3 linked regions of the Homo sapiens genome follow. The protein of the gene in region 3 interacts with the protein of the main gene of each other region in a biochemical or structural test. Each region holds a gene or a part of one and is shown on either strand. Other genes may lie near its edges.

Evidence for each region.
Region 1: the proteins of DLG4 (region 3) and TBC1D10A interact in a test that uses a peptide from one of them, tested with the Homo sapiens proteins (one large-scale study listed by IntAct).
Region 2: the proteins of DLG4 (region 3) and TBPL1 interact in a test that uses a peptide from one of them, tested with the Homo sapiens proteins (one large-scale study listed by IntAct).

What each region holds. Positions count from the first base shown.
Region 1 is NC_000022.11:30,316,817-30,320,465, forward strand, and holds part of TBC1D10A (TBC1 domain family member 10A), read right to left. Parts: intron 1-3,649.
Region 2 is NC_000006.12:133,956,132-133,959,780, reverse strand, and holds part of TBPL1 (TATA box-binding protein-like 1), read right to left. Parts: intron 1-3,649. UniProt on the Homo sapiens protein: Part of a specialized transcription system that mediates the transcription of most ribosomal proteins through the 5'-TCT-3' motif which is a core promoter element at these genes. Seems to also mediate the transcription of NF1. Does not bind the TATA box.
Region 3 is NC_000017.11:7,190,009-7,193,627, reverse strand, and holds part of DLG4 (disks large homolog 4), read left to right. Parts: intron 1-43; coding exon 44-145; intron 146-510; coding exon 511-683; intron 684-1,625; coding exon 1,626-1,735; intron 1,736-2,269; coding exon 2,270-2,361; intron 2,362-2,813; coding exon 2,814-2,920; 3' UTR 2,921-3,619. UniProt on the Homo sapiens protein: Postsynaptic scaffolding protein that plays a critical role in synaptogenesis and synaptic plasticity by providing a platform for the postsynaptic clustering of crucial synaptic proteins.

The sequences.
Region 1 (3,649 bases), on a different chromosome or scaffold from region 3:
TCGCTTGTGCCCAGGAGTTTGAAACCAGCCTGGGCAACATAGTGAGACTCTGTCTCTACAAAAAGTAAAAAAAGTAGCCAGGCATGGTGGCTTCAGCCTGTAATCCCAGCTACTCAGGAGGCTGAGGTGGGAAGATCGCTTGTGCCTGGGAGGTTGAGGCTGCAGTGAGCTGTGATTGCACCACTGCATTCCAGCCTGGGTGACAGAGCCAGACCCTGTCTCTTAAAAACAAACACACATACACACACACATACAAACTGCGTAGTTTTTATGTGGGGAAAACCGAGGTTAAAAAGATTAAGCAACTTTTGACCGGCATGGTGGCTCATGCCTGTAATCCCAGCATTTTGGAAGGCCAAGGTGGGTGGATCACCTGAGGTCAGGAGTTTGAGACCAACCTGGCCAACATGGCAAAACCCTGTCTCTACTAAAAATGCAAAAATTAGCCGGGCATGGTGGTGGGCACCTAAAACCCCAGCTACTCGGGAGGCTGAGGCATGAGAATCGCTTGAACCGGAAGGCAGAGGTTGCAGTGAGCCAAGATCAATTGTGCCATTTCACTCCAGCCTGCGCAAAAGAGCAAAACTCCATCTCAAAAAAACAAAACAAAACAAAACAAAACCAAGATTAAGCAACTTTCTCAAGGTCACACAGCTAGTTAGTGGCTCAGTAAGGCATAGGGTTAAGGTCTCCAGATCTCCGTTCAGCAGTATTTGTTTACACTATGCTCCTAATCCAATTATCTCATTTGATCCTCACAATCCTTTGTATACAACCACACCTGGTAACTTCTTTCTCTTTTTAAAATTTTTTTTAGAAATGGGGTCTCGCTCTGTCACCCAGGCTGGAGTGCAGTGGCACAATCACAGCTCACTGCAGCCTCAAACTCCCAGGCTCAGCCTCAGCCTCTGTAGTAGCTAGGACTACCGGCACGTGCCACCATGCCCAGCTAATTTATTTTTTAGAGACAGGGTCTCACTATGTTGACCAGACTGGTTGAAACTACTTGTTTAATGTCTGATTTCCCTGTGAGGGCAAGATCAGGTCTATATCCTGAGCCTAGCACAGGGCTACACATATAGTAAGTGCTGGGTGAAAAAAACTGGAAGCATTAGCCCCATGGTTGGGTGAGGGATGTGCCTAAGTCACATATTACAAAGGTCAGTGGTGGAGCCATCACTGACACTCTGACCCTGTGCCTGGTTCAGAGCCCTTTCTCAAACACTAGCCTAAAATCCACATTTCCAGCCAGAATCTCTCATCTCCGGATGCCACTGGTGGTGCCCCTTGTAAGTGCTGAGGGGTTTGCCTTCTCACAGGTTTTGTCCCAGCCAAGGCACCACCTCTAAGAACAGAATAAAGGTGCTAGGTGAGGTCAAACAAGCCTCCAGTTGCCAAGTGCCTCCCCTTGATCAGTGTATGCTGTGTCCAAAGGCCCAAACCCACCCTTCCCAGTTGCCATACCACCCTAAGGTAGGTTTTCCATGTCCTCAGGCCCCAGTCCTCTCTTCTGGTTCTCCTTGCATCCTTCCTTATCATCCAATATGTCTGCCAGGCAGAGACCAGGAAGCTCAACACCGCTTATCCTATTCCTTCCCCAACCAGGTCAGCCAACCCACTCTCCTGCTGGAAGGAGACAAAGAACCCCTTGATGTGCCCGGGGCAAGCCAGCCATACCAGGCACCTTGGGGAGCCCAGAGCTGTGACAACGCAGAGTCACAGCAGCCCACTGCCCTCTTCAGAGGAAGGCCACAGCTGGCCTTGCTTCCCTGTAGCCAGAGGGCTCCAGAATGGACTCTGTAAGAGGCCAAAGCCACTTCAGCTAGTCCAGAGCCTTCCTACCTCTCCATCAGCCCACATGGCAGTCATGAACCAAGCACTAATGATTTGCCAGCCTCTTTATCCTCACTGCTCCAGACCTCTTCCAGGTCTCACCACAGCCCTTTTAGGCCATCCTTGATTCTCCCAACAGGTCTCACTGCCTGCAATCCAGCTCCTCTTTATGCCGTCTTCCATGCCAGACCTGGACTAACTTTTATGCAACACAGGAGGCCTCAGCCTGACATTCAAGGCTGGACTCAGACCGCCCAACCCATTTCCTGGACTAACTTTTATGCAACACAAGAGGCCTCAGCCTGACATTCAAGGCTAGACTGAGACTGCCCAACCCATTTCCCTAACCTACCCTTGCTTCGTATCATTCTACTGCCTCCCGTTCTTCTTGTCGTATCATCCTACTGCCTCCCGTTCTTCTTGTCATCTCTGCTCTTGCCACACATGCTCAAACGACTGCTTTTGGGAGGGACTTTGCACATGGGCCCCCTCTCATCCAATGGACTGCCCTGCTTTGCCTCTTCTGAAGCCTGGATCAAATGCTACTACTTTCTAGGCTCCTGCAGGTGGGGCTGGCTGCTTTTTCCTCTGTACTCCCAGAGCAACTGCATGCCTCAATGACAGCCTTCATCACTCAACACTGGAAAGATTTGTCTGTGGTTCTATTTTTCAGCAAGTCTGTGAGTGCCTTGAGGGCAATAAAACACAGACATCTTGTTCAGTTCTATATCTCTTGTCCAAATCACAGGGTCTGACAGAGTAGGTGCTCAATAAATGTGTGGTAAATAAGCTCACTGCTAAGATGGATAAGCTGGCAAAAGTAAGCCTTGGTTTGCTCTCCCAGGCTGCTGGGTCTGCTGAGTATTTCTCTACCTGAAGAGGTGTTGAGTGCTAAGCTATGGCAGCCTCTGAAGACCTGGACAGGGCACAGAATGGAGTAGGGTAGGGTAGGGGGAGGAGAGACGGGAAATGGAAGGATGAGACAGAGAAAGCCAAAGTTGGCAGCTGCCCTGAAATCCTAGGTGGGGGCTTCTAAGCTGGTTAAGTATCAGGAGCATTGACTTGCCAGTGGGGTGGCCAGTACAGTGTTCTCCCTGCTGGAGAGGGTCTCTGGGCCCAGGATTGCGGCAATAGATTTACCAGGGGCAGACTAATCAGTTAAAGGAGGCCTCCTACCCCTCAAGTGTACTGTCTGCAGGATAAAGTGATCAGCTAGGACAACGGATGGATGATGGCAGGGCTCTGCTCTAGTCGGCAATGCATCCTGAGCCTGTAGGCTCAATTACCTCGACTGAGGAAGAGAAAGGGGAAGAGAATGGTCAGTGCTATGTAGCTAGAGGAGCACTGGGTGACAGTCGGAGGACCTGGGATCCCTCTCCGGTCTGGCTCCACAGTTCACTAACAGCAAGAGTTCTCCAACCTTCAGATTCCTCACCGGTACAAGCAACATAATCCCTGCCTCATCTACAAAGTAACACTTCTTCCAAAAGGCACAGACTAGATATCAAAGTCAAATGGCCATTATGCAGCATGTTGGGGTCAAGACCAATGCAATCCGGACTCTGGCCTATGGGAGGACTAAATCAGGCCTGATCTGGCCATGCTTCCAGGACCTCTCCAAGGATTTTCCTCCCTGTGCCTTTCTCCTGCTTGATGGCCATGACCTTTCCCTGTACTGAGACCTGCTCTGCCCTCCATACTGGAAGGGGGAGGTAGCCAGATTCCTGCTAACTCCTGCCCTGGGTGTGGGGACCTCAGGGACCTTAGGGACTTAGGGACAGTAAGCACCTGGCACCCTGCCTGCTGCCACCTTAGC
Region 2 (3,649 bases), on a different chromosome or scaffold from region 3:
CCAGGTGCAATGGCTCACGCCTGTAATTCCAACACTTTGGGAGGCTGAGGCAGAGGGACCACCTGAGGTCAGAAGTTCAAGACCAGCCTGGTCAATGTGGTAAAACCCCATCTCTACTAAAAATACAAAAAAATGGCCAGGTGTGGTGGTGGGTGCCTGTAATCCCAGTTACTCGGGAGGCTGAGGCAGGAGAATTGCTTGAACCCAGAAGATGGAGGTTGCAGTGAGCCGAGATCGCGCCACTGCACTCCAGCCTGGGCGACAGAGTGAGACTCCATCTCCAAAACAAAACAAAAAGAAAGAAAGAAAGAAAGAACACTAGAGAAAAATTAACAATGTGTTAGACAGAACTTTGTCTCAAAACAGGCAAGTTTTATTGTGGACTATAGTACTGATACCATGGCAACCTGTTTTCCTAAAAATTTCCTAACACAGGCCAGGCATGGTGGCTCGTGCCCATTGCCCATAATCCCAGCACTCCGGGAGGCTGAGACAGGCAGATCACTTGAGGTCAGAAGTTCGAGGCTAGCCTGGCCAACATGGGGAAACCCTGCATCTACTAAAAATATAAAAATTAGCTAGGCGTGGTGGCGCATGCCTGTAATCCCAACTACTTGGGTGTCTGAGGCACAAGAATCACTTGAACCTGGGAAGCCGAAGTTGCAATGAGCTGAGATGCCACCACCGCACTCCAGTCTGGGTGACAGAGTGAGACTCTGTCTCAAACAAAAAAAAAATTTCCCAGCACAGTCCTCAGGGTATCTAAAACTAAAGGAAATATATATCTCTATCTATTTGGTGCAACAGTCATGATCATTTCCTCTCTTAAACAGGAAAACAAAAGTCACACCTCTAAATACAAGCATATTTGCCAACCTCCTTAGTGTGTGGAAGCTTATAAAAACCAGCTGAAACAAATAAACAAAACCAGCACAACATGGAAGAAGGAATTATAACACTTTACCCTGCACATTTAAAGCAAAATATGCTTTTAATAATATATTTTATATAAACCTCTATAGTATATATTTTATAAAAATGGATTTCAACTAAAAACTAAGACCTGGTTATTAGCCAGAATAGGAAAGAACAGTCTGCAATTCACTTTGTTTAGGCAGAAACATTTATTTTTAGTCAGCAGTTTCCAATGTCCACACAACTAAACTAAAACATTTGGACTTAACTTTTTAAAGTTAGCTATTATTTCAGCAGCAGCCTAAACAAAACTATAATTATCAAATTATTTTCCTGATTAGGTAGCTTCAGTATTTGTTTTTAGCTTTACCATAAACAAATAATTTTGCTATCCTACGAAGTCATTCTTGAGCCACCTGAATTACTGGGGCAGAGCAGCAATTTTAGCTACTTCTAAAATTACAAAAAAAAGCTACTATTAGAACATTCATAGTGGCACAGAAAGCTCACAACACATGGCTTTACACTGATACTAACAAGCTTCAAGTTTACCATCAACTAAGGTTATACAAGTAAAAAATAGTGCCTTCTAACGAAAGCCTAATTCTGTTAAATGAAACCATTGGGGTTTATTCCTTTTATTCAGAAGTATCATACAGCTAAACAAGTCAAGTCCACAGGGAAATAGTATTTCAATAGCTGCAACATGGTGCCAGCCCAGGCTTTGTCGGCCTTCCTTTTCCAAGAAACAGAGATGTCTCTCTTTACTTAGTCCATCTGCCATCAGTGATAACCAGATGCCTGTGTGACAATTCAAAACTTAAAAAAAGTACTTCCCCCTCCTAAAGCCTAACAGCAGAGATGAGTCCAATAGTCAGTGAACAGAAAGAAAGAAAGAATTTCAATGCTCTAGTAGAAAGCCTCCCAACCAAAGAAACAAAGCATCCAAGTGGTCCAACAGTTCACCTTTAAAATAATATCCAGTGCCACTGCTACTAGCACCTGCTAATACTTTTTAAAGCTTTTAACTAAAGTTCTAAGTGCTTTATGCTAATTCTCACAGCAACCCTGTAACGTAGTAGTAGTATTAACTCCCTAGTACAGATGAGGAAACTGGGGCTCAGGGCAGTGAGAAAGCTATTTAATATTTAAGGCCATGCCATTAATTAAAAGCACAGCCATGATGCTGAACACAGGCTGCCTGCATCCAGAGTCCGTACTCTTTAAGTGTTGTACCAATCCCAATCTCAAGAAAACGTAACTGATTCTGATCAAAACTCTTCTGTCTCACAGTGAAAATACTTGTAATTTATCAGGAGCGGGAACGTTAACACCTGATTCTTTGGAACCATTTTATTAATGGAAACAAATTTTTTTACTGCTTTTAAGTAAGACTTAAGTTCTCACCTAGTGAGTTAAAAAACAAAAACATACCATGGGCCAATGTCTACACACAGATGTCTATCTTGTGCTAAGCACAATTCAATGCTGAAATCATCCACATATGTCCTAAGAAAACTCTGTCCTTAACACACCGTCTGGTTTTCAGTATTTTTTATTAATGGATGGTGAAAGTAACCAACAGCCAAACTTCTGTGCTGTACTTTTTGGTGAAATTTTAAACATTTTCATTATTGACTCCCACACAAAGGCACATCTCCACTACCCCAGAAATCACCCTATTGAGTTTTTTTTTAAAAACATTTAATGGGATCCATAGCATGCTTCAACCCACAAAACCAGCCATTTAAACCAAATTCTCTATTTTATCACCCTTTAGTCACAGACAAGTAGAATTTCTGATGTGACCTGATTCCTTTCCACTAAAGACATACTTCCAGAATCTTGCTTTTTCACAACTACACAAATACACAAACTCCATCTGTCTTCTAAAGAAAAGATTGACTGGTTAATAATACAAAAATCAAATTTGTCTATGTAGCCTGGAAAAACCTCAGATACGTATACAGTCTCTCATCCTTTTGAAATTTCCCAAAGTGGTAGTCATGTGACAAGAGCAAATATCGTGTCTACTCAAGTGAAGGCAGTCCACCATTATCTTTATTGTTTGAATTGGTTAGAAGCTGTAATCATGCTTGAGAAAGTGTCACTGCTTGTAATTTGCATGCCCACAGCCAGAATACAAAGTTGAAATTTTAGGCATCAAGAATCAGATTTCAAAAAGGTTTCCTTCATCCACTAGCTAAGCTCTTGAAGTGAAATAAACAAACATGTATCTCCTTCTATTAACAACGTAATCTTCAAAATACACACACAGGGCAGGGACATACAATATGATGATGGCTACTCATACTCCTGATCCTCAAGAAACTTCTAGTTTAGCAGGCATGATGAAGTCCATTCACCAATAGTGACAGTACCAGGCAGTATGTAATAAAGAATTTAAAATTCATATTTGTGTCTGTCATGTTTTATTACACACATGTCATTTCTCTGCTACCTACAAGTGCACAAAAAGCACCTGAAGGGAAATACCTCTCTCATCCAGCTTTGCACACCTGACACGGCACCAGACATACAGAAGGCACAACAAAATGGATTTAAGTTTCAGGGAATCTTTATTAGTTCGAATGTCACAATACAGCTAAAATTTGAAAACACCAGAGATTTTAACTCAGAGACAATGTGGAAACATTCTACTATAAATTCTTCTAAAAATCAACTGCAACGTTCATATTTTATAGCAATAATTTCATCACATGGTCTATGATGA
Region 3 (3,619 bases):
TCCCCCAACCCTGCGCTCGGCCTAAGCCAGGCTCTCTCTGCAGTGCACTATGCTCGCCCCATCATCATCCTTGGGCCCACCAAGGACCGCGCCAACGATGATCTTCTCTCCGAGTTCCCCGACAAGTTTGGATCCTGTGTTCCCCGTGAGTGCTGGGGCCTTGGATGGAGGAGAAGGTGGAAGTGGGGGTGGGGCAGGGGAGGCCCATCCCTGGGGCCATAGGCAGAGCCTCCTGGGGGATCGGTGTGTAGGGAGATACAGGGTTTCTCCGAGAAGGGGTGCTTCTCAGCCACCCTCTCATTCCATAGTACCCATGCCCAGGCCAGAGACTTGGAGGCCCTGGAGGGTGCTAGGGGAAGCGGTTCTGGCCCTCTGCAGTCTTGGTCTCCCTGGCAGCTCCCTTTCACCAAAGGACCAGCTGGGCACTATGGGGATTTGATTGAAGTAGGCAGGATTTAAGCTAGAGGGATGGTGGTTAGATCTTTGGGGGGTGGGGTGACTTCCTGGCAGATACGACACGGCCCAAGCGGGAGTATGAGATAGATGGCCGGGATTACCACTTTGTGTCGTCCCGGGAGAAAATGGAGAAGGACATTCAGGCGCACAAGTTCATTGAGGCCGGCCAGTACAACAGCCACCTCTATGGGACCAGCGTCCAGTCCGTGCGAGAGGTGGCAGAGCAGGTAGGACCTGGCGGGCACCCGGTCCTCTTCCTTCTCCCCTCTCCCCACCCCACTGCCTCCCTCCAGCTTTCTCTAACTCTCTCTCTCTCTGTCTCTTTCCCTGCTGGGTCTCCACTCCGCTCCTCCACCTCCTTCTCCTCTTGGGCAACTCTGTCTGACTGCCTGCTCTCTGCCCCTGCTCTCTCTCCCACCTCCCTCACTTCCTGACCCCAAATTCCCCACCACCATCTGGCCTCTTTCTCTCCCCACTCCCTTCTCCTTGCCCCATTTCTCCTCTCTTCCCATGGCCTTGTCTTTGGTGGCTTGGCCTTCCCCACTGGGTCCCTCCCTTTTTCCTGACTCCCCGCTGGCCCTCTCCCCTGCCTCACCCTTTTCTGGGGCCCGGCTCCCCTCTCCCACTCCTCTGCTAACTCCTTTCCTTTCCCCGCTGCTCCTCACCCTGCCCTCCCTCCCTCCCTCCACGGTTCCTTTCTCCATCTGCCTCACTCCCTCCCATCTGTCTCCTTGTTCCTTCCATCTGTCTGTCCTCTGTCCGTCCTCCCCTCCCTCCTCCCTCTATCCTACTTCCTTTCTCCTTTTTCTTGGCTTTCCTTCCCGCCTGTGTCACCTCTGCCTTGCACACCCCGCCCCACTCGCTGCTGCCCCGGCTCTGCCACCATCTCTTGGGTCCCTGCCTGCCTGGTGCTCCTCCCTTCCTCCATTCTGTCCTGTCCCTGCCCTCTCCCGTGCTCTCCATCTTCCCTTTCCTTTCCCTCTGTCTTTTACTCTGTCCATACCCGCTTCCTGCCTGACTCTCTGCCCCCGTGTTTCTTGACATCCATGTCACTCCCCTTCGGCCAACTTCCCATTCCCCACCTCTCCCCGTCCGTGTCCCTCCGGCACTGCTCTCTGTCCTTTCTCGCCACCCGCTGGCCCCCCTCCGCCCACCCTGCCTGCCCCCAGGGGAAGCACTGCATCCTCGATGTCTCGGCCAATGCCGTGCGGCGGCTGCAGGCGGCCCACCTGCACCCCATCGCCATCTTCATCCGCCCCCGCTCCCTGGAGAATGTGCTGTGAGTATGGTCCTGGGGGCCTCCCCTTTGCTCCCCCAACACCTGTGGCCCTGGGCCTCACAAGGCGTCTGCGTTCAACTCTCCCTTCAGAACCCTGGACAGCGGTTTCAGCAGCCCCTGAGGGGGATCCCTGGAACCCAGAGGATGTGGGGGAATCGGGTCTTTCCCCTCCTCTCCTGCCTTGGCTAGACAGGACTACATTTCCCAGCAGCCCCTGGGGCATACCAGCTGGGGCGAGTCAGGGCCTCTAGGGCTGTTGGGAATTGGAGTCCGAATCCCATCTCTGGGGCTGAAGGCTGGAAGGATGAAGCTCCGTAGATGTCCCTGGAGTAGCCACACCTGGCTGGGGCGGTTGCGGGTGGCAGGGGGGTGGGGGGTGGTTCTCATCTGTGGCCCCAGAGGATATTGGGAATTGTATTTTTTTTTTTGCTATGTGCTCCAAATAGAAGAATACTTAACATTCCTGGATAGAGGAGATAAAAGGCAGGGTCAGGTGGGTCCAGTCTCAGGCCTGCTCTCCCTCCCTCTTCACAGAGAGATTAACAAGCGGATCACAGAGGAGCAAGCCCGCAAAGCCTTCGACAGAGCCACCAAGCTGGAGCAGGAGTTCACAGAGTGCTTCTCAGGTGAGGCCACAGCAAGGCTGTTGCCAGCATGTAGGGTGCCCTTGCTCGGATTAGAAAGAGCTCCCCCGCCACCCCCAGTGGATGGCTTAGAAAGAGGTGCCCCTGTGGGCGCGGCATGGTGGCTCACGCCTGTAATCCCAGCACTGGCGGGCACCTGTAATCCCAGCTACTCGGTAGGCCGAGGCAGGAGAATCGCTTGAACCTGGGAGGCAGAGGTTGCAGTGAGCCGAGATCGCACCACTGCACTCCAGCCTGGCGCTAAGAGCAAAACTCAATCTCAAAAAAAAAAAAAAAAAAAAAAAAGAGGTGCCCCTGTGGGCGGGTGCAGCCCCAGGACTTATGGCTTGGAGAGTTGGAAAGAGGTGCCCCTTCCTCTGGGCTGGTGCAACCCCCTTGGCCAGGTGTCCTCTGGCCCTTCCTTGGCCTCACTCCCTGCTCCACCCCACTCCCAGCCATCGTGGAGGGTGACAGCTTTGAGGAGATCTACCACAAGGTGAAGCGTGTCATCGAGGACCTCTCAGGCCCCTACATCTGGGTTCCAGCCCGAGAGAGACTCTGATTCCTGCCCTGGCTTGGCCTGGACTCGCCCTGCCTCCATCACCTGGGCCCTTGGTCTGGACTGAATTGCCCAAGCCCTTGGCTCCCCCCGGCCTCCCTCCCACCCCTTCTTATTTATTTCCTTTCTAACTGGATCCAGCCTGTTGGAGGGGGGACACTCCTCTGCATGTATCCCCGCACCCCAGAACTGGGCTCCTGAACGCCAGGAACCTGGGGTCTGGGGGGGAGCTGGGCTCCTTGTTCCGAGCCCTTGCTCCTTAGGATCCCCGCCCCCACCTGCCCCCAATGCACACACAGACCCACCGGGGGCCACCTGCCCTCCCCCATCCTCTCCCACACACATTCCAGAAGTCAGGGCCCCCTCGAGGAGCACCCGCTGCAGGGATGCAGGGCCACAGGCCTCCGCTCTCTCCTAAGGCAGGGTCTGGGGTCACCCCTGCCCTCATCGTAATTCCCCATGTTCCTTGATTTCTCATTTATTTTTTCCACTTTTTTTCTTCTCAAAGGTGGTTTTTTGGGGGGAGAAGCAGGGGACTCCGCAGCGGGCCCCTGCCTTCCACATGCCCCCACCATTTTTCTTTGCCGGTTTGCATGAGTGGAAGGTCTAAATGTGGCTTTTTTTTTTTTTTTTCCTGGGAATTTTTTTGGGGAAAAGGGAGGGATGGGTCTAGGGAGTGGGAAATGCGGGAGGGAGGGTGGG